Linked DNA regions of Homo sapiens. The protein of the gene in region 1 purifies or fractionates together with the protein of each later gene. This does not show direct contact. Each region holds a gene or a part of one and is shown in the gene's direction. Other genes may lie near its edges.

Evidence for each region.
Region 2: the proteins of TRAP1 (region 1) and AADAT fractionate together in Homo sapiens (co-fractionation; one large-scale study listed by BioGRID). This does not show direct contact.
Region 3: the proteins of TRAP1 (region 1) and DDX46 fractionate together in Homo sapiens (co-fractionation; one large-scale study listed by BioGRID). This does not show direct contact.
Region 4: the proteins of TRAP1 (region 1) and EIF2AK4 purify together in Homo sapiens (affinity purification with western blotting, with the first as the bait; one study listed by BioGRID). This does not show direct contact.
Region 5: the proteins of TRAP1 (region 1) and LTA4H fractionate together in Homo sapiens (co-fractionation; one large-scale study listed by BioGRID). This does not show direct contact.
Region 6: the proteins of TRAP1 (region 1) and SDHA purify together in Homo sapiens (affinity purification with western blotting, with the first as the bait; one study listed by BioGRID). This does not show direct contact.
Region 7: the proteins of TRAP1 (region 1) and TXNRD2 fractionate together in Homo sapiens (co-fractionation; one large-scale study listed by BioGRID). This does not show direct contact.

Annotation. Positions count from the first base shown.
Region 1 is NC_000016.10:3,672,525-3,676,024, reverse strand, and holds part of TRAP1 (heat shock protein 75 kDa, mitochondrial isoform 1 precursor), read left to right. Parts: exon of another isoform or gene 1-627; coding exon 628-701; exon of another isoform or gene 702-1,530; coding exon 1,531-1,686; intron 1,687-3,204; coding exon 3,205-3,325; intron 3,326-3,500.
Region 2 is NC_000004.12:170,083,457-170,086,956, reverse strand, and holds part of AADAT (kynurenine/alpha-aminoadipate aminotransferase, mitochondrial), read left to right. Parts: intron 1-1,963; exon of another isoform or gene 1,964-2,208; coding exon of another isoform or gene 2,209-2,232; intron 2,233-3,500. UniProt on the Homo sapiens protein: Transaminase with broad substrate specificity. Has transaminase activity towards aminoadipate, kynurenine, methionine and glutamate. Shows activity also towards tryptophan, aspartate and hydroxykynurenine.
Region 3 is NC_000005.10:134,828,200-134,831,621, forward strand, and holds the end of DDX46 (probable ATP-dependent RNA helicase DDX46), read left to right. Parts: intron 1-459; coding exon 460-507; 3' UTR 508-2,922; downstream 2,923-3,422. UniProt on the Homo sapiens protein: Component of the 17S U2 SnRNP complex of the spliceosome, a large ribonucleoprotein complex that removes introns from transcribed pre-mRNAs.
Region 4 is NC_000015.10:39,972,115-39,975,614, forward strand, and holds part of EIF2AK4 (eIF-2-alpha kinase GCN2), read left to right. Parts: intron 1-793; coding exon 794-900; intron 901-1,477; coding exon 1,478-1,635; intron 1,636-3,500. UniProt on the Homo sapiens protein: Metabolic-stress sensing protein kinase that phosphorylates the alpha subunit of eukaryotic translation initiation factor 2 (EIF2S1/eIF-2-alpha) in response to low amino acid availability.
Region 5 is NC_000012.12:96,018,588-96,022,087, reverse strand, and holds part of LTA4H (leukotriene A-4 hydrolase), read left to right. Parts: intron 1-950; coding exon 951-1,003; intron 1,004-1,329; exon of another isoform or gene 1,330-1,396; coding exon of another isoform or gene 1,397-1,398; intron 1,399-2,847; coding exon 2,848-2,920; intron 2,921-3,184; coding exon 3,185-3,325; intron 3,326-3,500. UniProt on the Homo sapiens protein: Bifunctional zinc metalloenzyme that comprises both epoxide hydrolase (EH) and aminopeptidase activities. Acts as an epoxide hydrolase to catalyze the conversion of LTA4 to the pro-inflammatory mediator leukotriene B4 (LTB4).
Region 6 is NC_000005.10:249,320-252,819, forward strand, and holds part of SDHA (succinate dehydrogenase [ubiquinone] flavoprotein subunit, mitochondrial), read left to right. Parts: intron 1-1,672; coding exon 1,673-1,784; intron 1,785-2,018; coding exon 2,019-2,149; intron 2,150-3,500. UniProt on the Homo sapiens protein: Flavoprotein (FP) subunit of succinate dehydrogenase (SDH) that is involved in complex II of the mitochondrial electron transport chain and is responsible for transferring electrons from succinate to ubiquinone (coenzyme Q).
Region 7 is NC_000022.11:19,931,819-19,935,318, reverse strand, and holds part of TXNRD2 (thioredoxin reductase 2, mitochondrial isoform 5 precursor), read left to right. Parts: intron 1-1,588; exon of another isoform or gene 1,589-1,652; intron 1,653-1,792; exon of another isoform or gene 1,793-1,878; coding exon of another isoform or gene 1,879-1,885; intron 1,886-2,765; exon of another isoform or gene 2,766-2,949; coding exon of another isoform or gene 2,950-2,962; intron 2,963-3,500. UniProt on the Homo sapiens protein: Involved in the control of reactive oxygen species levels and the regulation of mitochondrial redox homeostasis. Maintains thioredoxin in a reduced state. May play a role in redox-regulated cell signaling.

The DNA of each region.
Region 1 (3,500 bases):
CCCGGGCCCAGGCTCACTCTGGGATCCATGTGTGGCCTGGAGGCCACCAGGTCAGCAGGCATTTTCCCTGGTTCTACCTGCACGTAGGGTGCACAGGCAGAGCCGTGAAGGGCCGAGCCGCTGCGGGACTGGGAGGGGGGCTGCCCGCCAGGGCTGCGTAGCATCGAGCTCCTGCTGGGACTGGGAGGAAGCTGGCCTGGCTGAGGCGGACCTCCTCCTCCTTCCTCTGCGTGGCCCTTGGCCTTTAGTGCACCTGGGGGTTTGGCGCAGTCCTGTCCCAGGATGTGGGCGTGGCCTTCCCTCTTTGTGTCCTGCTGGACACTCAGGGAGGCCCTGAGTACCCCCAGGAGTCAGCCCAGAAAGCCATGTTCCAGCCACAAGCTGACATTGCAGTCTCGCAGCAGCCGGGGCCTCCACAGCTCTGGTTCTCACGTGGGCTCCGCTGCTGCCCCCGTGAGACTGGGGGGAGGACAGGTGTCCCCACTGTGCCCTGTTTCTGTACCTGTGAAGTGTACACAGCATGGAGGACCCTTCCCAGCAGGCTGGCGCTCATCCTGGAGCTGCTGCAAAGCTTGCGTTTCCACAAGCATTGTAGATGCAGTGTGGTTTTTCTTTTGTCCCTTCCAGATGTGGTAACGAAGTACAGCAACTTCGTCAGCTTCCCCTTGTACTTGAATGGAAGGCGGATGAACACCTTGCAGGTGAGCCCTGAGTTCCTCTAGGGACTGGTCAAACATGGAGACAAATCTGTACGTTTCAGGGCAGCGGAGAAGAGATGAGCCCAGGGGATGCGGCCCAGAGTCACAGGGCGAGCTGCTCTGTGGAGATGAGACCTGGGTGTGGGGATGAGACAGGGGCCCAGCTCTACCACAGCCCTGCCCCTGTGCACCGGGCAGCCGGGGTCAGGGGTCAGGGTTCACTGAGGCGTAACGCCCATCCCAGCTGGCTCACCACATCAGTGTGCAGCCATGGTGTTCAGTGCAGCCACAGAGCTGTGCAGCCACCCCGCATCAATTCCAGAACATCCCATCACCCCAAAAAGCAGCCCTTTCCCCACTGCCCCTCCCCCAGTCCCAGCAGCCACGGTCTCCTTTCTGTCCATTGTGCTGCCTGTTCCAGACGTTTCTCCTGGATGGAGTCACACGGCATGCTGTCCTCAGTGACTGACTTCCCCCTCGCGGCTCAGCTGCGGTGCAGCGTGGGTCGTCATCGCTCTCACGGCCCACACTGTATTCGTCAGCTCGCCCCTGCTGGGCAGCGTCATCCTCTCCCACAGGCCCCCTCAGGTCCCGGCTGGTCCTCCTGACATGTTGTCCTGAGGAGCTCCTGCCCCAGAGCCTTGTGTGTCTCCCCTGCACTACCCGGCATAGCCCAGCGGTGGGGCTGGAGAGGGGTCTACGCCTGAGACCACCGCCCGTCTGTCCCAGGAGCCTGTCCAGGGCCAGGCGCTGCACTGGCTCAGGCCTGCACGGTGGTGGAGAAGACGTGCGTGGTGAACACGACGCCCTCCCCGCCGATCTCCGTTTCCAGGCCATCTGGATGATGGACCCCAAGGATGTCCGTGAGTGGCAACATGAGGAGTTCTACCGCTACGTCGCGCAGGCTCACGACAAGCCCCGCTACACCCTGCACTATAAGACGGACGCACCGCTCAACATCCGCAGCATCTTCTACGTGCCCGACATGGTGAGGCACTGTGGCAGTCCCACGGCCCTCAGGGTGACTCTGTTGTCCCCTGTGGCATCAGCTCTGCAGATGTCACATGATTAACATGGCAGTGTGAGGGCATGAAAAACATAGGTAGTGCTGGGTGTGGTGGCTCACGCCTGTTATCCCAGCACTTTGGGAGGCTGAGGAGGGTGGATCACCTGAGCCCAGGAGTTGCAGACCAGGCTGGCCAACATAGTGAGACCCCATCTCTGAAAAAAAAGAAAAAAAGAACAGATGCCTCTGGGTGGGTAACCACAGAGGTTTCCTCTGTCTCAGGGGTCACACATGGCGAGGGAAGGATTGATGGGCATCTCAGTGCAGGCTGGGGTGGAGGCTTGTGGACTGGGGTGTGCCTGGGGAGGGCCCTCAGAGCCTACATCATCTGCTGTGGATCAGTGGATGCTGTCCTGCCAGGCGCTCTGGGAAGGGCCTGTGGTCTTGCCTCTCCGTTGGCCTCTCTGTGTGCTTCCTCCACACCCTCCACCTCCCCTGGTTTCCTTTACCACATTGAAGTTCCCGCAAATCCTGCCGTAAGGAGACCTATTCGGGGCTGAGAGCCAGCCCGTCCTGCCCCCAGGCTCTTCTGTCCTTGGCTGCCTGGAAACTCTCCTAATGTCCTGCACAGCTGGCATCCATCTTGGAAAGAGCCAGCCAGGTGTGGCCTCCAGGGGCTTGTTAGAGTCTCAGGCCCCACCCAGGGCTCCTGCGTGGGAGCCCACATTTTAATAAGATCTCCCCGCATTTTAACCGGATCCCCCCCATTTTAACCAGGTCGCCCCACATTTTAACCAGGTCTCCCAACATTTGAACTAGATACCCGCCGCATTTTAACCAGATCCCGTGATGAGGTGTGGGTCCCGGTTCGGGAAGTACCAGTGTGGAGCAGGTGTTGGCAGGCACGTTCCACGAGGGCCAGACAGGAGCTGGTCCCAGCGTTTCGGGCCCGGTGTCTTTCGTAGCCACTAACCCTGCCGGGTGAGGAAGCAGCACTGCCCTGCTGCCCTCTGAGCACACAGGGCCGGGTCCCATGAGCTGCGTAGACACTGAAATTTGAGTTTCATCTTCACGTCTCATGAGATCATCCTTTTTGAAATCTTTCCTCAACTGTTTGAAAGTGTAAAAACCACTCTTAGGCTACACAGAGGTAGGCAGTGAGCTGGATCTGGTCGGAGGGCTCTTTGCTGATCCCTGACCTGTAGCAAGGTTTGGCTGTGTTCAGTGTGTTCAGGGGTACGTGCAAGGTTCACTCTCTTGTGTCCTCCTTAGGGGGTGGGCTGGGGAGGGCGGCAGCTGCCAGAGAAGGCCTTCAGCCCCTGCAGAGCCACAGTGTGGGGCATCGTGGGGCCCCTGCACTGGGCTTCAACTCAGAGCAGACGCTGGGGGAGGGCGAGGCGGGAGTGGGCTCTGGATTCATCGTGTCCGCCCCCACCTCCCAGCCAGGGCCTGCCTGGGGAGGGTCAGTGCTGCATGATGGCGTGTTCTCCTCACCCCCAGAAACCGTCCATGTTTGATGTGAGCCGGGAGCTGGGCTCCAGCGTTGCACTGTACAGCCGCAAAGTCCTCATCCAGACCAAGGCCACGGACATCCTGCCCAAGTGGCTGCGCTTCATCCGAGGTACGCTGCTCAGAGTCCGTGAGCAGTGCCCCCGTGGCCCAGTGTCGCCCGCTGCATCTGTGAGGGACCGTGCTGATTCCATTCTCAGCAGCCCTCTGCAGCGAGAGCACCGCCGTCGGCCTGCGCTGCCTGTGTGTCAGTCGCGTTTACAGACCCCGGGAGCTGCCCCACCTCC
Region 2 (3,500 bases), on another chromosome or scaffold:
AGGATGGGGGTGGGAGCAGTTGTGGCCGGGGATGGGCAAGGGTGGGTAGGGGGTGTTGACTGTAAGCAAAAGCCAGGTGGAAATATTGTAGGTTGATCTATCAATATTTCCCCCTAGTTTTCCTCATTGTGAACACAAGGACTTTGAAAAATTACCTGCTCTTAACATCATTCACTAGCCTAATCTTTCTTAAATATTAAATACAGAGCATGTGGTCAATTACCCAGACCTATTAACCATTAAAGCAGGATGCCCACTAAGGGAGTACTCAACTCCTACCAAAAGCTTAGTGAACACTGCTTAATTTCATCTGGCTCAAAAATTCAAGTTACGTTTGATTTCCGCCTATAGTTAGGAAATTTCAATACAATTTTTAAATTTTTTAGAGGGCATGCTTTCATATTCCTGAGATACACATATTTATATTCTTTTACATATCTGTCTGTAGAATCTCTCCTTGCCACTGCTTGTATCTTGTCCCCCTCTTGGGTGTATTTCTCTAGATCTATTTATATGTCTGTATTTCTGACTTCTTATATGGATTGGTTCTCTCTCCCTCTCCCCCTGGCATTAGTTATTCCATCTTCTTCCCTTCTGGGTTCCGGGAACTCCACAGATGTAAACACCACTGGTTAGTTGCCACAATAAAGAGACCACATCTGTGGTCCTCAGTTTGATCTGTTATTTTCTTTTCTTTCTTTTTTTTTTTTTGAGACAGGGTCTCACCCTGTCACCCAGACTGGAGTGCGGTGGCGCAATCACGGCTCCCTGCAGTCTCGACCTCCCTGGGCTCCAACAATTCTTCCACCTTAGCCTCCCAGGTAGCTGGGACTGCGGGTGCACACCAATATGCCTAGCTAATTTTTATATTCCTTTGCCATGTTGGACAGGCTGGTCTTGAGCTCATGGGCTCAAGCAGTCTGTCCACCTTGGCCTCCCAAAGTGCTGGTATATTTTCTCCTTTGTTTTCCATGAATAATAAGATTCTCTATATTCATTCTCAGATCTAAATTAATCTATGACTCCCATTTATCTTTATCTTAAACCAGAGTAGTTTTCTTTTTCATGGAAATATGAAAACTGTAATCTGGTTTGCTTTAATGAATTTTAATTAAATTATTGTTACAGAATAATGGGTTACAGTAGTAAAAACATTTTTTAAAGTTTTTAAAAATTAAAAAAACTTACCCTTTTTGTATTTAATTAGGAAAAGTAAAAGAATTAGCTAGTGTTTGAGTCTTTGCTTGAAGAGAAACATTTGTGATTGTATAGAATGATATAAGAGTATTTTTTAATGAAATAAATTCTTTCCTCAAGAAAGGATACTATGGACTTTTTCTTCCAGAAAGTTGCTCAAGACAGTTTCTTCTTTATCCATCACAACACCAGTTACACAAAAAAGGAAGATAGCATAGATTGCTAAATACGTCAATAACTTACTACTTACAGACATGCTTATTATAGGGGCACTAATATGTATCTGGTTTAATATTTCTTCCACTTTGTTCTCCAGGAGTCATGTTATTTTAGACTCCTGTGTTTCTCTCTCATCTTTTAAACAGTGCTCCCAGATGATAAACAGCCTTCCCTTCTAATTTAGGATATTTGAAATTTGTATGTCCCCTAACTGATATGAAAAATATATTTACAGTTGACCCTTGAACAACGCAGGGGTTTAAGGGCAATGACTCCATGCAGTTGAAAATCTGCATATAACTTTTGACTCCTCCAAAACATAACTACCAATAGGCTACTCTTGACCAGAAGCCTTACTGATAATATAGTCAATTAACACATATTTTATATTTTATATGTATTGTACACTATATTTTTACAATAAAGTAAACTAGAGAAAATAAAATGGTATTAGAAAGTCATGAGCAAGAGAAAATATATTTACCATTAAGTGGAAGTGGATCATCATATAGGTCTTCATCCTCATCTTCATGTTGCTTAGGCTGAGGAGAAGGAGGAAGAGGAGGGGTTGGTCTTGCTGTCTCACGGGAGGCAGAGGCAGAAGAAACTGTGCGTGTAAGTGAACCTGTGCAGTTCAAATCTATGTTGTTCAAGGATCAACGCTAATTAGGTTTTCATTTGATCTGTTGATATGTACGTGCTGCCACCCAAGTGATTCCTTTGGTCCTAGGATGTCTTGTAAAGCTTAAGTCAATTAGAAACTTTTCGGAGGAGGATACTGTTTGTCATAAGATGCCAAAAGCTCATAAGGAAAAGGTAAATTCAACATCACAGGTCAGTTGGGGAACAAAAGTCAAATCTTCTATCTCAATTGATAATGGCCCTACTGTTTGTGGTGAGATGTGGGTTGTTAAAGTGATAGGAAAAAGGACTCAAACTGGGGATTGTGAAACATCACAAGTTAAGAAGCAATTATTCTGTGACTTATGTATGATTTAGTCATAATAGACCCCTTTGATTTAGGCTGGAAAAATCTATTGCCTGGCTCTAGTGATTGTAGTAGAAATCATATTATCCACATAATTTACAAAGATTGTCAAACCTTTTATTACTTGACCTAGAAATATTCTTTAACTCCGTTGATCTCCCCATCCATTTTATTTTAAAAAATTAATTTTTAATTTTTTCTGTTGCCATAAAATACACATATAAGATTTGCTATCCTTGCCATTTTTAAGTATACAGTTCAGTGGTAATAAGTACATTTATATTCTTTATTTTTCCTTCACCCTATCTCCCTCCTGTCCTTTCCAGCCTCTGGTAACCACCAATCTACTCTCTATCCTTATGAGATCCACTTTTTTAGCTCCCACAGATGAGGGAGAACATGCAATATTTGTGTTTCTATACTTGGCTTATTTCACTTAACATAATGACCTCCATTTCTATCCATGTTGCTGCAAATGACAGGATTTTATTCCTTTTTTATGGTTGAATAATATTCCATTGTGTGTATACCACATTTTCCTTATCCATTCATCAGCTGATGGACACTTAGGTTGGTTCCATATTTTGGCTATTGTGAATAAGTGCCATAATAAACATGGAGGTGCAGATACTTCTTTGATATATTGATGTTTTTGTTTTGGATATATACTCAGCAGTGGAATTGCAGGATTATATGGTAGTTCTATTTTCAGTTTTTTGAGGAACCTCTGTACTGTTCTCCATAGTGGCTGTACCAATTTACATTTCCATTAAAGTGTATAAAGGTTCCCCTTTCTCTACCCTCATCAGCATCTGTTATCACTTGTCGTTTTGAAACTAGCCATTTTGAATATGGTTAGGTAATATCTCATTGTGGTTTTGAGGTTTTTCTGATTGCATTGGTAATATTGAACTTTTTTAATGCCTTTTGGCCGTTTTTATGTCTTCTTTTAGAAATGTCTGTTAAGATCTTTTGCCCAATTTTTAATGGGATTATTTGGGGGTTTTGCTATTGACTTGTTAATCCCTTGTCAGATGGGTAGTTCGCAAATATTTTCTCCTCTCCTGTAGGTTGTTCTAGTTCCTTGAAGTGCATT
Region 3 (3,422 bases), on another chromosome or scaffold:
TAATTCTGAGAGCTTTTCTAAAATTCCCCTCACAGAGCATTCCTTTTTTTGTTGGGGGGTGGGGGTGGTTAGAAGTTTAATGAAAAGTGGGTTCACAAAACAAGAGGGAAAAAGTAAAACAGCTGTTAAATCATGTGCTTAATACTATTTCACCAAGGAGTGGTCGAAAAGAATCTTGTGCCCATAGATGCTACCACCATTAGGTTGATTCAAAACATAGTTGTTAAGGAATAGTTGAGTGAACAGAGAATTCATTAGTTATTGAATAGTTTTTCCTTTCTCAATGCAGTAATAGTAACATTTAAAATTTTAAATAACCAATAGTTTTATAAGTTGGCAAAGGAAATGATCTTAAATATTTCCTTTTGGGTTTGTTTGGTTGGTTGGTTGGTTCGTTTTTTTTTTTTGTTTTTTTTGTTTTGCTTTCTCTGATGACATATCTTTTATTTCCTATTACAGCAAAATTCATACCAACCAACAAATAAAGGAAGATACAAAGTCTTATAGACATCCGGAAAAAAGATTTTTACCTGTGCTGGTCTATGATGTATGTGGCAGTTGCTGTCTGCAGTTTACAATGTATTGTAAATGAAGATTTTTTAAATTCTATCTTGCTGATTTTTTTTAAATATAAGAAACTGGTACTTGGTAAAGAAATCTGTCCGTAAGTACCCCCACAATCAGTCAAACTATATTTAAAGCCAGCCTGTTTTCAGAGTATGATGTCCTTTAATGTAAACTCAAATATCAATATTTTAAATGTCCGGATAATATTCTAGAGGTTTAAAAAATGGAAATATTTGAACTTTCTATTGAAGACAATAAAGTACACAAGTCGTTAAGGGGCTATTCACTTTATCCTGTACTTTCAATGAAATTGTGATCATTTCCTAAGAAAAGGTAAAATTCACTATCATATTTTGTGTCCCCACCTTGATGTTACATGACTCTGGAACAATATGAACTGGATTTAAGAATGTTATAATAGAAGTCTTACAAAATGGGTTGAGAGTTTTTGTTTCAATTTTTATCATCATAAATGGGCAAAAAGTAGTTGGACTAATTTCGGTTTTTATACAAGTAAAGATTTAATAGTATAAGGATTTTTTTGCATTTCTTTACACTGAGTGTAAAACTCTACAAAGAGTTATAGTATTTACTACTTTGAGGTTTCCCTCACAACTTCTGGCTCCATACCTAGCCCCTCTTTTATAATCTTCCTTAAAAGAAAGAGTGTAGCCTATAAATACTAAATATGATACCTTTTCCTTCTAGAAAGTGTTTATTTATATATCTATACATGTTGTATGTACAAATATCCTACTACTTTTAATCTGATTTTTCTTCAGGATTATTGAGTAGGTTGTGAATTTTCTTTCTTAAAAATTGTAAAACATAATGGTACCCAAGTTTTAAACTTAGATGTGCTTCATCTTAGTGAAATTTAATTCACAAGGAATCATAAATTGTGTTTTTGAGGCTGGGCGCAGTGACTCACACCTGTATCCCAGCAATTTGGGAGGCCGAGGTGGGCAGATCACTTGAGGTCAGGAGTTCAAGACTAGCCTGGTCAACATGGTGAAACCCTGTCTCTACTAAAAATACAAAAATTAGTCGGCATGGTGGTGGGTGGCTGTAATCCCAGCTACTCAGGAGGCTGAGGCAGAAGAATCTGAGCCAAGATAACACCATTGCACTCCAGCCTGGGCGACAGAGTGAGACTATCTCAAAAATAAATAAATAAATAAATAAATAGTATTTTTGAGCCTTCAAGATACAGTTCCTGAATATTCTAATTTAAATTGTTATAATTGGATTACCTAATATTCTTTTCAAGACTCCTGATGTATTAACTTCATGTTATTGTCACTTTTCAAAAAAGGAATTTTTTTCAGGAGTTAAATAAAGTCAGTCTTTTATATCCAAGGGTTTCAAACCCACAGATTAAACCAACCACAGATCAAAAATAGAAAAAAAAAAAAAAAGAAAAAAAGAATGTAAAATTTTAAAAATACAGTTTAACAGCTGTAAAAGTTTTACTATAACATTTACATTGTGTTAGGTATTTTAAGTAATTTAAAGGTTACAGTATACAGGCGGTTAAAGTATACAGGAGGATGTGCATCGGTTATATGCATATAGCAAGCCATTTCATATAAGAGGCTTGAACATCCATGGATTTTGGTATAGAGGAGGGGTTTAAGGGGTGTCCTGCAATCAGTCCCCCTCTCATACCAAAGGATGACTGTATATTTCTTAAATGAAGAGACTTTCATTCTTTAAATATTATTGACTTACAGTTTAAAAATAAATAAATAAAAGCATACTATAGTTGTAAAAACAAATAATTTTAATAGTATATTCAGTGGCTGAAGTGATAGGGAGTATTAATCATTATTTCTTCAGTATAAAGTTATTCTTCCTGAAAAAGTAAGATATACCTGGGAAATATTCTTGGATCCTTCACACATCCACTTAATTTCTTGAAGGAAGAAAACAGACAAAAGACATGTAACAACAGAAACAAATAAACCACTTACTGTAAAATTTCAGAAATTGTGGGCTCATTCCCTCCCTCTAGTTTATTTATTTGCTCATCTTTATCACCTAATGGTAGTTTGTTTTCTTTGGTAGAGTATATGGCAGTCCCACATCGATGATAATTGGTGCTCCCTTCATCCAACTGGATCACTTTGAGATTCAGTTTTACATCATTTTAGCATTTTGTTTGTATATCAGTTGTGATGAGCCACTGATAAAATTTTGTTCTAAAATGAAACATATTACTTTGTTAGTACATTTTTTAGTGTCACACTGACTTTTAAAATTTGAATGATATATAGACTTTGTTTTTTTAATGCAATATGAATATTTGCTCATGTTTTCTAAATTCCTTATAAAATAAAATTAATTCGAATTCAATCTGCACTTTCTTAAAATTATCTTTCCTCAATGCTTTTTCTTTCTTCTGTTTCTCTAATTTTGTTTATGTTGGTGAGAGAAGTATTATACTCTCTATTTTTATTTAAAAAATTCTAGCAACTTATTACCCAAAATATTTATAATTCTGTTCCAAAAATGTCTTCCTGAAGAAGGCTCTTAAGTCTTTTATGTTCATTGTATTTAGCATAAGAGAAACATAGGTGAAATAATAGGTTCATTTACCAGTTGGGGTTTTGCCACAGTGACACTCTTACAAAATGGATATGTAGGCTGGGTGCGGTGGCTCATGCCTGTAATCCCAGCACTTTGGGAGGCTGAGGCAGGCAGATCACCTGGGGTCAGGAGCTCAGGACCAGTCTGACCAACACGGAGAGACCCAGTCTCTACTAAAAATACAAAATTAGCCAGGTGTGGTGGCACATGCCTGTAATCCCAGCTACTCGGGAGGCTGAGGCAGGCGAATCGCTTGAACCCGGGAG
Region 4 (3,500 bases), on another chromosome or scaffold:
TTGGGAGGCCGAGACAGGCAGATTGTTTGAGCTCAGGAGTTGGAGACCAGCCTGGGCAGTGTGGTGAAACCCTATCTCTACAAAAAATATAAAAATTAGCCAGGCCTGGTGGTGCCTGCCTGTAGTCCCAGCTACTGAGATGGGAGGATTGCTTGAGCCCGGGAGGCAGAAGTTGGAATGAGCTGAGATCACACCACTGCACTGCAGCCTGGGCGATACGGCAAGACCCTATTTCAAAAAAAAAAAAAAAGCATAAACCAATTTTTAAAAAAAGTATGCAATAGAATATGGGACTTTAAAAAAGCCTTCCCTAAATGTTTCCAACTTGCTTCATCCTGTAATGAGCAGGCTTCATCTAAAGCTCGTCATACTGAGCCACTCTGCTGCACCAACTCTCTGATTTGCTTTGTCTTTCGAAAGCTTTATTTATAACCGGTTCCTGCAAAGGCTTAGTTTGGCATGACAAGGCATTAAACTGTTCATCGAGGTGAAAATTTATAGCCTACTTGTGCTACCTTAGACTTTTAAAAAATTGTTCCATGAGGGTAAGTCTTCTCATCTAGAGATGCCTTTTTTTGATTCGCCTCTTGTACCCAGCCTGTCGCATAGCATGTAAATCCTGCAGGAATGTTTATTAATTTAAATTCACCTATGAGAGTACATTCTGGTCTTTGAGTAACATGAATTCTATAATGTGTATCTTTAAAAAATAAACCCATAGTTAATGCCTTGGATTAACTAGTTTAGCACTGATTGTTTGTGATGCTAAGATTCTTCCTTCCCTCTCACCGAGATGTGTGTGCTTGGATGACAAGGAAAGATGGAGTCCCCAGCAGTTGTTGAAACACAGCTTTATAAATCCCCAGCCAAAAATGCCTCTAGTGGAACAAAGTCCTGAAGGTGAGTCTGTTACCTTTCTTTATTTGGTAACCTGTTTGACATTAAATTATTTTGAAAGTATACATAAACCAAAAACTGGAAGGGGCTGCATGTGTTATTTTATGTCTTTTATTCTGAACTAAATCCATTAGTTTGATGTGTGCCATGTGCATGGGACTGTTTTGCCACCCTGATTTTTCTAGTCTCTATTGATGGAATGAATGTCCATTGCTGTAGTCTCTTGTAGTGTTTAGTCACCCATAGTGCCATGTAACTAGATTTTTCCTGCTGCACCTGAGATTAAGGAACCTCGGTAGAGATTGGGATGGATCATGAGACCTGAGTTTTGGTTCTAGCTCTATAGTTAAGTCACTTATTCTATATAATCCCCCACCTGTAAACTTGGGCTAATTATATATTTCTGCCTACTTTAAGGAGGGCAAGGTGAGGAAAAGTTTTAAAAGGCCACTCAGGTAAGAGGTAATTTTTCAAACTACTGGTTGGAGCTCTTCTTCCAGGGCTTCCATCATTGTTGGCTATGTAGCTCTTCCTAAATTTCCAATGCCTCATGTGCCTCTTACTCCCTGTTTTATCTCAGATTCTGAAGGACAAGATTATGTTGAGACTGTTATTCCTAGCAACCGGCTACCCAGTGCTGCCTTCTTTAGTGAGACACAGAGACAGTTTTCCCGATACTTCATTGAGTTTGAAGAATTACAACTTCTTGGTAAAGGAGCTTTTGGAGCTGTCATCAAGGTGTGGTACAGAGTCATTCCCAGTCCCCTTTAGAGCTCCTTCTCTGTTCCATTTCCACAAAGACTCATGGACTTTACTTTTATTTTGGGAGTGGGGAGGGAAGTGAATATGGCTGTTGGATACTATGCTCATCCTCACCTTCCTGGAGTTAAAGGTTTTATTTAAGTTACGCTGGACACAGTTGAGAATTGTCCCACTCCTCTTTCCTTGCTTCATGTGGAGCATTAACATGAAACACACATGGTTATAACAGCACTTCAAGTGGAATCAAGACCTCCACAGAAAGAACATTTTTGTGTGCTTTGGTTCAGAAAGAACATTGTTCTTTTTTTCTCCTGTTTGCTGTTAGAGTTGCTGTAGATAAAAAGGTTCTAAGGTTAGAAGAGAGATGGACTTCAAACTGGGAGATGGCCCCAGCAGGTCTCGATGGCTTTTATTTTCCAGCTATTATTGGGACAGGAAAGTAGCGATGTATTATTAAGGTACACTGTTGTTGGGTCTTCCTTTCTTCGTTCTAGTCTATTTGGGTGACTTTTATTATTATCTGCCCCTTGTAGAAAGAGGTTTCAGCTGTTTTTATATAATAGAAGTATTTCTTTGTAAATTAGGAGACCCAGATTATTGTATTAAGTCCATATACAGTACATGTCATCTTTCACATATGAAGGTAACCCACCATCAACTGAGTATATTGTCTGTTAAGGATTCTGAGAGTATCATTAGGAAGCATTACTGTTACTGTAGAAAAACTTTTACACTAAAAAAGGAATTAAATTAGTTTTCCTGTGGTAAAAGACAGACAAGCAAGACAGATGTCCTGATCAGAAAGATCATAATTATGTCTAAGAGGAGGGGATGATTGAAGCGTATACTGTCCCTTTAACACAATATCATTTTGATCAAATCCTTTAACTTCATTCTATTTTAAATTCTTGAACGTAGAATAGTAACAAATTTCATCTCTTTACAAGTACTTAATAATGATAGGCAAGCTCATATAACAAAAACATCTGAGTAACTTAAGCCCCCACGGTTTCCAGTAGTTTCTCCCTGTGAGAATCCACAGCCCTCACCTCCTACCTCTGTGCTTCTGTGTCAGAGTAGGGCAGCCTGCCCAGTGATCTGGCATTCATTAGCAGTTGGACCCATTACTGTTTCTGCACCTTTTCACTTCAGTAAATGAATTCCTAGGGGTTTCCAGTATAGCAAGCTTTACTCCCAACCCAGTTCGTATATGATGTGTACTGAGACAGGAGATCGAAAGGCAATGCCAAGATCCCCACCTCCCGCCCTACACTGTCCTCTTCCCTATTAATGTGGCAGTAAAAGAACACAGGGCTATCATTTTTTGGAGCACCTGCCATATTTCAGATTGTGTGCCAGGTGATTTACAAACCTTGTCTTTAAATCTCAGGACATTCTTACGAGATGGGTATGATCCTCATTCCCTAGATGAGGGAACTGAAGCTCAGAGAAGGTTATGTCCTTTGCCTGAGATAAGGGAGATAAAACCAGCATTCAGACCCACCTCTGTTGTACTACAAAGTGTGTGTTCTTGTCACTATTTCCATACAAAAAAAGATAATCTGAAACTCAATTTTGTAGTACTTCCTTCTTATTCCCAGGACTTCACTTAGACTTTTATTAGTTTAATTGAAACTTGTGAGCCAAACAAGAGAATGATATTCTGTTTTGTGTTTTGTAATCAACTAATTTCTCCTGCCACCCATGGCCACATGGCATTTGCTTTTCTAGAGTATATCATCACCTCAGTTGACCTGCACGGATGTGACTACAAGGTTTCAGTGAATAAGACTCTGTAAAAGTTACTTCAGTCACCCCAATTACATAGTGAAACTGCCTGG
Region 5 (3,500 bases), on another chromosome or scaffold:
CACATCCAGAGGGCAAAATTACTTTTGAAATATTTCAGAATTTTGAGAACAGCTTTTGGTTTTTGTTTTCTTCATTTTTTTTTCTTTTGTGCTTTTAAAGGGTTTTGTTCTACTTACAGAGTGTTGTATTGAAGAGAGGGTTTGCTGTAGAGACAGAATAGGGAGCATACCTGTTTTCATTTTCCCTCACTCCAGTTCAGGGGCTGGCTTCCTGTTCTTTTGAGTTCTTACGCATTCACCTGCCCTGGTACTACAGTGTGGGCAAGTGGCTGTTGAGAGTGTTTACAAATGGAGGAGTCAAGACCAAAAAAGCACTCAGTTACAGTCCTGGTCATTAGACATGTATCTTTGACCTTCAGTGAACAGAATGTGTATGCATGCGTGAGTGTGTGTGTGTGTGTGTGTGTGTGTGTGTGTGTGTTTTCTTAATTGACCTCACAATGGATAATTTGACTTCCACTGCAGCTTCTGTGGTTCCAAGCTCCCATAACTTTGGCATCTACTTATTGCCGGGTAACTCTGTGTGCCTCTACAACATGCCAATAGTGCTTTGAAACATAAAGGAATAAAAAAAGAAAACCAAAACCTTTTAAAAGTCAGGAGGAAAAAGGCAAACATATGGGAAATGCGCTTCCTGTAGGTTACTTTTTGAGAAATGCTCAAAATGCACCTTTTAATAGTATGTGTGATCTTGTTTTTCATGTGTGAGAAGCTTTTGTTCCTAGCAGAATAAAAGGCAAATAGATGTTTTGAACAATGTTTTATATCACAATTTTAAGCTATATGTTAAAGATGAGAACTATTTGAGAAGTATAAAAGCAAAGTTATCCCTACTAATATTAGGAGATTTGAAAGGGAATTTACTTACTTTTAAATATGAATTGTCTTACTGTGTAACATTTGTGAACACTAATGCAAGCACGTGGTGTGCGTTTGTTTGCCCTCTTTAGGTTCCAATACCCTGCTACCTGATTGCTTTAGTTGTTGGAGCTTTAGAAAGCAGGTGAGCTTTTGGAAAAATTTTCAGGTTTGTGGAAAGATCAAAACTTAGGCATCTTGAACTTCTCTCAAGGTTAATTGGTCAATCATTTGCATATTTCTCAAGATATCAAGCTGACAGCTCTAGAAAAATTCAAATCTAAAATGTAGGCAACAAATTAATTTTACATTTAAAAATCTTGACCAGTTACCCCTTATTTTTTCAAGTATTGTAAAATGAGCATGCTCTTACCTTTAGAGATCTGGATTCTCATGTAAGCTTGAACAAGTCACTCTCAATCTCTGTTTCCTTATCCTTGAAATTATAATGTCTGACTTTCTACCTCATAGGGTGGTTATGTGAAACAAATGAGATAAAATATATTAAAGAACTTGGAAGCCTACAAATATTACAGAAATGTAAGATATTTTATCAATATTTTACAAATAAAGTGCCCTTCCTTCTTAATTTTTTGTTCATTCTTAGTTTTAAGCACACTTAACTGTTTTTAAGTGTGCGGTTCAGTAGTGTTAAGTATATCCACATTGTTGTGAAACAGATCTTCAGAAATTTTTCATTTTGCAGAACTGAAACTCTGCACCAATTAAACAATAGCTCCTCTTTCCCCCACCGCCCAGTCCTTGGTAACACCCATTCTATTTTCTGTTCCTATGAATTTGATTACTTTAGATACCTCACATAAGTAGAATCATACAGTATGATTTTATCTCTTTGTGTCTGGCTTATTTCATTCAAGGTGTCATAATGCCCTTAAGGTTTATCCACGTTATAGCATCTGACAGGATTTCCTTCATTTTCTATTTGTTTCTTCTTATATAAGAGTATTCAACCTTTAAGTGCATGACAAAGTTTATACCCATTCCTGTTCTAGAATAGTCTTACAGGCTGGGCTCTGTGGCTCATGCCTGTAATCCCGTCACTTTGGGAGGCCAAAGTGGGAGGATCGCTTGAGCCCAGGAGTTCAAGACCAGGCCGGGCAACATAAGTGAGATCATGTCTCTACAAAAAAATAAAAAATTAATCGGGCATGGTAGTGTATGCCTGTAGTCCCAGCTACTCAGAAGGCTGAGGTGGGAGTATTGCTTGAGCCCAGGAGGTGGAGGCTGCAGTGAGCTGTGATGGCCCCTCTGTACTCAGCCTGGGCAACAGAATGAGACCCTGTATATTTAAAAAAAAAAAAAAAAAAAACGCTGGGCGTGGTGGCTCACGCCTGTAATCCCAGCAATTTGGGTGGCCGAGGCAGGCGGATCATGAGGTCAGGGAATTGAGACCATCCTGGCTAACACAGTGAAACCCTGTCTCTACTAAAAATACAAAAAAAAGAAAAAATTAGCTGGGCGTGGTGGCGGGCACCTGTAGTCCCAGCTACTAGGGAGGCTGAGGCAGGAGAATGGTGTGAACCTGGGAGGTGGAGCTTGCAGTGAGCCAAGATCGTGCCACTGCACTCCAGCCTGGGTGACAGAGCGAGACTCCGTCTCAAAAAAAAAAAAAAAAAAAAAAAATAGTTTCTTATGAGTTGTGACTGGGTTTCTATAGTTGTGAAATTGAGGGATGAAATGAGACCCTCAAGAGGTCTTACAAGAGGCAATAAACTAATTGGGGACACCTTATGTCTTGGTTTTTTTCCTTTGGCCCAGCCTGTACCTCCTTAGAGAGCTGCATATCTATTGCTGCATATACAACAGCAGGTTTGCAGCTCACGCCATGTAACCTCATCCCTTTCCCATAGGCACATGGTAAATGCACTCTCACTGTAAAGGTTTGTCTACAAGACATTAACTACTTTTTAGAACCAGATGAATCATTTGCCATGAATTTCTTTTTTATTAAGCTTTTTAATCTTGCAGGCAAATTGGCCCAAGAACTTTGGTGTGGTCTGAGAAAGAGCAGGTGGAAAAGTCTGCTTATGAGTTTTCTGAGGTTGGTCATTTAGTTATCCTTTGTAATCATTGTGATAGACAGTAGATTGAAGATTTTGAGTGTGAAATGTGATGGTTTTAAGTGATACGGGGAAAGAACCAGATTGTCTTTTATGTAGATGTGTAGTTGCTACATTCTTTTTATCATTTTCATTTAACATAAAAATCATTAACTTGTAACCTTCATAGAAAGCAATATACAATTTTAAGAAATGTACAATGGTGATAATTAAGGCATACAGACATATATATGTTGATTTTTCAGACTGAATCTATGCTTAAAATAGCAGAAGATCTGGGAGGACCGTATGTATGGGGACAGTATGACCTATTGGTCCTGCCACCATCCTTCCCTTATGGTGGCATGGAGAATCCTTGCCTTACTTTTGTAACTCCTACTCTACTGGTAAGTGTAAATGTTTCTTCATTTGAAATTGACGTTTCAAAAATAAACTTAAGAACCTTAGGAGTCCTAATAATATGTATATATATGTAAAGAACCTTAGAGTCCTAATAATGTATATATGTATAAAAATCTTTTCTCTTGTTCGTGTAACCTTTGTTTCTAATTTTATTGTTTA
Region 6 (3,500 bases), on another chromosome or scaffold:
GGACACGTTGGGAACAGGCCCCCCAATGTGGCCATAAACTGTCCCCAAAACTGGCCATAAACAAAATCTCTGCAGCACTCTGACATGCTCTTGATGGCCATGATGCCCACGCTGGAAGGTTGTCGGTTTACTGGAATGAGGGCAAGGGACACCTGGCCCACCCAGGGTGGAAAACCGTTTAAGGCATTCTTAAACCACAAACAATAGCATGAGCGATCTGTGCCTTAAGGACATTTTCCTGCTGCAGATAACTAGCCAGAGCCCATCCTTTTGTTTCCCGTAAGGAATACTTTTAGTAAATCTTATCACTGGCTTGCTGTCAATAAATATGTGGGTAAATCTCTGTTCAAGGCTCTCAGCTCTGAAGGCTGTAAGACCCCTGATTTCCCACTTCACATGCTGTATTTCTGTGTGTGTGTCTTTAATTCCTCCAGCACCGCTGGGTTAGGGTCTCCACAACCGAGCTGGTCTCAGCAGTAAATATTGAAAAGGAATAGATACAATTGTCATTATTTACAGATAGAATTTCCAAACAATTCCCAGGGAATAAACTGAAAAACTAACAGAAACAAAACAAGAATGTAGTAAGGTGTCTGGATAAGAGATTTGTATCTAAAAATCAGTAGCTTTACAATGTGCCAGCAGTAGTCTGCTCAGACATCAGTAAATATCTCATTCACATTTCAAAAAAAATTGAAAATGCCCTGAAATAATGTAACCAGAAATACGAAAAAAAGGATATGAAAACATGTGGCTGCTAATGGACATGAAAGAATGTAATACTAGATTCTGAGATGCAATGTTTTTCATTTGTTCTTCCTGAAAAACCATTAGGTTGATGTGCATTACAGTGTTACGATTATGTATGAGTCTAAGGAAAATCAGATGAAATGTCCAAATTAAACCATGAAGGTGCATTGGTAGAGGAAGAGAAAATTAGGGTCAGTGGAGCAAAGCACAGTTAGAGGGAGAAGCAAGGAGGAGGAGGGATCACTGAGGTGGTGCCTGTCCCACAGGAAGCAAAAGCTGACGCCTAGTTCCCAGCATACCTACAGTAAACTTCAGGTCCACTGCATAGCACGTCTCTCATCACAGTAAAACTATGAAGGAACTCAGTGTACAAGGAGCTTCTACAAGATAGGCAGAAGACAGTAGCCAGATGGGCCAAGGGCCCCAGCCACCCACGCCCCTCCCTCTCCTTGAAGACGTGCAGCTCCAACACCACCATCACCAGGGCTCTGCTCAGCTCCTCCTAGTGTGTATCACCACAGGGCTGCTGGCTTGTGTCACGTTCACCACCAGACCCCGCGTCAGGAGTCCCGCCAGGGGTGTGGAGAGGCAGCGCTGCCTGGTTGGCCGTGGAGCTGTATGGAACATGGTGCCTCACAGGCAGTCTGCTTGGAGTCCTGGACCCTGGCTGTATCCTGCTGGAAAGGATGTGTGTGGGTCTAAGATGTGTATGTAATAGAAACATTTATTTATTCAGAAGCTTTAGTCAAAACTTCATTTTTAAGTTTGGAGTAATAAACTCATAGTCTGAATTTCCTAATTTTTCTGTTTAATTTATGTAACTTTTAAGTGAAATGCAAAACAACAGGTCTAAAAGTTAAGCAGTTCTTGGTATGGCTGCTTCTATGGATTAAAAGTTTACAAATAATATTTTGTGCCACAGTCAATGCAAAATCATGCTGCCGTGTTCCGTGTGGGAAGCGTGTTGCAAGAAGGTTGTGGGAAAATCAGCAAGCTCTATGGAGACCTAAAGCACCTGAAGACGTTCGACCGGGGTGAGCAGACAGTGGGCTCTGTGCACACTGTTGGGCCCTTCCTTCTGCAGGGTGGGCTGGTGTCTGTCCCGTCAGTGCTGACTTAGTTCCGTGCTTGCTGTCTGGATGGGTCCTGGCCCACAGCTATAAAGCCACAACCAGTGACTCCATGGACTAGCAGGCCCAGGCTGACAGCTCGGAGGGCCCATGTGACTGGGTCCCGCCTGCCCCTGATGGAACTTTTTGTGTCCCCAGGAATGGTCTGGAACACGGACCTGGTGGAGACCCTGGAGCTGCAGAACCTGATGCTGTGTGCGCTGCAGACCATCTACGGAGCAGAGGCACGGAAGGAGTCACGGGGCGCGCATGCCAGGGAAGACTACAAGGTGGGCCTTCTCACCACGCCCACCTGCACCTGCCTTTTCCTGCCACCTGGTGGGACTCAGCCCCACCCCTGCATTTTCTCTGCATTTTCTTTCGTTGCCCCAAAAGTAAATCCAAAAAATGCCTTTTTCCCCCCTGGTAACTTTGATCCCTGGGTTCTCGCCATCTTCTGGATCACTGTGACCTTTTCCTTGCTTTGGGTCGGCATCCACTGATGCCAGCAGTGGCATCTCCAAGCCAATGTGCTTTGCTGTTAGAAGGCCAAGGTTAGAAGTGCAGCTAGAGTGGCAAGACCAGGAAATAAATGCCAGTTTATTAAATAACGAGTAAGCCATCATTTCAAGCCTGCCCTGTGGAGGAAATGCCAGTTTATTAAATAACGAGTAAGCCACCGTTTCAAACCTGCCCTGTGGAGGAAATGCCAGTTTATTAAATAACGAGTAAGCCACCGTTTCAAACCTGCCCTGTGGAGGAAATGCCAGTTTATTAAATAACGAGTAAGCCACCGTTTCAAGCCTGCCCTGTGGAGGAAATGCCAGTTTATTAAATAACGAGTAAGCCACCGTTTCAGACCTGCCCTGTGGTGGAAATGCCAGTTTATTAAATAACGAGTAAGCCACTGTTTCAAACCTGCCCTGTGGAGGAAATGCCAGTTTATTAACGAGTAAGTCACTGTTTCAAACCTGTCCTGTGGAGGAAATGCCAGTTTATTAACGAATAAGCCACCGTTTCAAACCTGCCCTGTGAAGGAAATGCCAGTTTATTAAATAAGGAGTAAGCCACCGTTTCAAGCCTGCCCTGTGGAGGAAATGCCCGTTTATTAAATAACGAGTAAGCCACCGTTTCAAGCCTGCCCTGTGGAGGAAATGCCCGTTTATTAAATAAGGAGTAAGCCACCATTTCAAGCCTGCCCTGTGGAGGAAATGCCAGTTTATTAAATAACGAGTAAGCCACCGTTTCAAGCCTGCCCTGTGGAGGAAATGCCAGTTTATTAAATAACGAGTAAGCCACCATTTCAAACCTGCCCTGTGGAGGAAATGCCAGTTTATTAACGAGTAAGTCACCGTTTCAAACCTGCCCTGTGGAGGAAATGCCAGTTTAGTAACGAGTAAGTCACCGTTTTAAGCCTGTCCTGTGGAGGAAATGCCAGTTTATTAACGAGTAAGCCACCGTTTCAAACCTGCCCTGTGGAGGAAGTGCCAGTTTATTAAATAATGAGTAAGTCACCGTTTCAAGCCTGCCCTGTGGAGGAAATGCCAGTTTATTAAATAACGAGTAAGTCACCGTTTCATACCTGCCCTGTGGAGGAAATGCCAGTTTATTAACGAGTAAGCCACCGTTTCAGACCTGCCC
Region 7 (3,500 bases), on another chromosome or scaffold:
GGTACTGCAGGAGACCAGGGCGTATTTCAGTCCTTATCTCAACCGCATAAGACAGACACTCCCAGAGTGGCCGTTTACAGACCTCCCCCCAGGAATGCATTCCTTTTCCAGGGTCTTAATAGTAATATTCCTTGCTAGGAAAAGAATTTAGCGATATCTCTCCTACTTGCACGTCCATTTATAAGCTCTCTGCAAGAAGAAAAATATGGCTCTTTTTGCCTGACCCCACAGGCAGTCAGACCTTATGGTTGTCTTCGTTCCCTAAAAATCACTGTTATTCTGTTCTTTTTCAAGGTGCGCTGATTTCATATTGTTCAAACACACGTTTTACAATCAATTTCTACAGTTAACACAATTATCACAGTGGTCCTGAGGTGATGTATATTATCAGCTTATGAAGATAACAGGATTAAGAGATAAAGACAGGCATAAGAAATTATAAAAGTATTACTTGGGGGCCCAGGCGCGGTGGCTCATGCCTGTAATCCTAGCACTTTGAGAGGCCGAGGCAGCCATATCACAAGGTGAGGAGATCAAGACCATCCTGGCTAACATGGTGAAACCCTGTCTCTCCTGAAAGTACAAAAAATTAGCCAGGTGTGGTGGCGGGTGCCTGTAGTCCCAGCTACTCAGGAGGCTGAGACAGGAGAATGGTGTGAACCCAGGAGGCGGAGCTTGCAGTGAGCTGAGATTGTGCCACTGCACCCCAGCCTGGGCGACAGAGAGAGAATCTGCCTCAAAAAAAAAAAAAAGAAAAAAGTATAAAAGTATTACTTGGGAATTGATAAATGTTCATATTGAAATGAAATCTTCACTATTTATGTTCCTCTGCCACGGCTCCAGCCAGTCCCTCCATTCGGGGTTCCTGACTTCCTGCAACACAGGTGTGAGCCACTGTACCCAGACTAGGGGTGCAGTTTTTTTTTTTTTTTTTTTCTGAGACAGAGTCTCACTCTGTTAACCAGGCTGGAGTGCAGTGGTGCTATCATAGCTCACTGCAGCCTTGAACTCCTGGGTTCAACTCACCCTCCAGCCTCAGCCTCCCTAGTAGCTGGGACTGTGGGCCCTGCAGTTTCTCCTTTTAGAGTAGGAAGACCTGAACTGTCCCAGGCTTGGAGTGGGTGGGCGATGCAGCCCCTGAACAGGAGCCAGAATGACAACACCTGCTGCCAGGAAAGAGCTCTAGATAGAGCAGCCATACAGGAGGGCCCCTGAGGTGGCACCCTGAGGTGGCCAGCCTGCCTGTGGGTGCACATTTTGGGGGACCCTTCCACTTGCCCTCACTGGTGCAGTGCTGCATTCTCTTGGGCCTTGCTATGAGCTCTGGGCTCCTGCTCTTTGCTGGCCTGTACCAGGCAGTGGGTTCAAAGAGGAGCAGAAAATTAATGGACAATATGTCAGAAGGCAGAGGCAAGACAGACACTTGCTGGGGCCAAGCCCTGCAGGTGGAGAGGGTATGCCTGGCTAAAGTGGGTGAAAGGCAAGGTTATGAGGTTCTCCAGGACACTGGAGTGCACAGGTGGTGTGTCCCCAGGTAACGCCTGCCACCCAGCCCTTCCTCCCACAGAACAGCATCTGCCCTACCCACCTTTGAGGTACTTTGGGGTCCTTCCTTCCCAGCAGGCTACCCAAGCCCTTCCAAGTGCTTAAAGGCAGATTTCCTATGCTTGCAAACGACTGCCCTATGCCAGTGTTTATCAGCCCGAGAGGGCTCCTGGGTGTGCACAGGGGGCGAGCAAGCTGCCCAAGATAAGCACATCCATACAGACAGCTGCTCACCCTGCCTGATAGCAGACAGAGGGGGCACAGTGCGAGGCTGCAGGGCAGGATGACCTAACAAGGGCCCTGCTATGGCAACAAGAAGGACAGGCACCTGCCATGGAAGGTAGGGACGTTCTGAGCAAAGCTTCCGGCTACCAGGCAGCTGGAGGAGAGAGATGCTTCTCCATCAGCAGGTTCATGCTCCCCGGGGGACCTGGTGGCATTTTCTCCCTGACCAGCAGTCCTTGGTTCTCTAGACTTATATTAAAGCCATTAGAATAATTTACAACAATTTAGGCCTTTCCAGAGCCCTTGAGTTGAATTAGGAATTGAGTGTGCTTTGGACTGGCTGTTGGAACCGAGTTGTGGCTCTGTCAGTTCCCGCAGGTGCGCACACATCTCACGTGCACTCAGAGGCTGGCTGCCAGGTGAAAGAGTGGGTGGGTTTGGTTGTGGGGCAGGCTCGCTGCAGGCCATGGCCTGAGTGCCTGGATGCAGCTTCCCAAGCTTTCTCAGCTGTGAGCCAGGGCTCCTCTAGGCTCCAGCTCTTGTATCCTTTAGGAGTGCATGTTCTAGACCTGTCTGTGGGGCATCTGCAGGGCCAGGGTGTGGAGAGACATGACACTCCAAGTACACTCTCTGCAGCCTTGCCTGCCTAGGAAGGTGGAGGTGGCTGCAAAGATAAGTGCAGCCTTCTCATGGCAGACGCTAGGCTCTGATGGAGGTGTTGGGCAGGTTGCCCAGCCTTGTATGACAGACCCTGCTCTGATCATGGAACCTCTTGGCCTTGTCTGAAGCAGCGACCGGCTCCAGATGCTCTGGGAGGGTGGTGCTTCTCATCTGGGCAGGCTCGTGTCTGCAGAGGGGCTGAGGGCACTACTTGTTTTATACCCTAGAGTCTTGTCATCAGTCCCCACCCTGCCCTCACCCCAGCAGACTGATGACTTGCTATTATTTCTTCCTTCCTTCAGCAGGGAGTTGGCTGGTGCCTGGTGCTGGGTGTCCCGGACCTCAGGCCCAGTTCAGTGTACTTCCCCTCTCTACTTCCTCCCTCCAGTCCCTTCTCCATCCCTCCCTTTTTTGGCTGCCCCTTGCCTGCCTTCCTCGCCAGTAGCTTGCAGAGTAGACACGATGACACCTTTTGCAGGCTAAAAAGGCTGAGAGTGGCACTATGTGCAGTGAGCCACCATGGAGGACCAAGGTGAGGCGACACCACAACCAGCCCAAAAGGAATTCCAGGGATGAAACCTGAGCCCAGGCAGCTCTCCCTGTGCCCAGGGTGGCTTCCCTCCTAGCTGACTGCAGCTGGGCACACCAAGACCCTGGCTGTGTGCACTGGCCAGCTGTGAGGGACAGGGGCTGCTTGTGCTTTTATTCTTTTTTTTTTTTTTTTTTTTGAGACGGAGTCTCACTCTGTCTCCCAGGCTGGAGTGCAGTGGCGTGGTATCCGCTCACTGCAAGCTCCGCCTCCCGGGTTCACGCCATTCTCCTGCCTCAGCCTCCCGAGTAGCTGGGACTACAGGCGCCCACCACCATGCCCGGCTAATTTTTTTGTATTTTTAGTAGAGACGGGGTTTCACTGTGTTAGCCAGGATGGTCTCGATCTCCTAACCTTGTGATCCACCCGCCTTGGCCTCCAAAAGTGCTGGGATTACAGGCGTGAGCTACCGCCCCTAGCCTGTGCTTTTATTCTTGCTCACTTGTGACGGAGGGCAGCCTTCACAACTGAAAGGCACGTG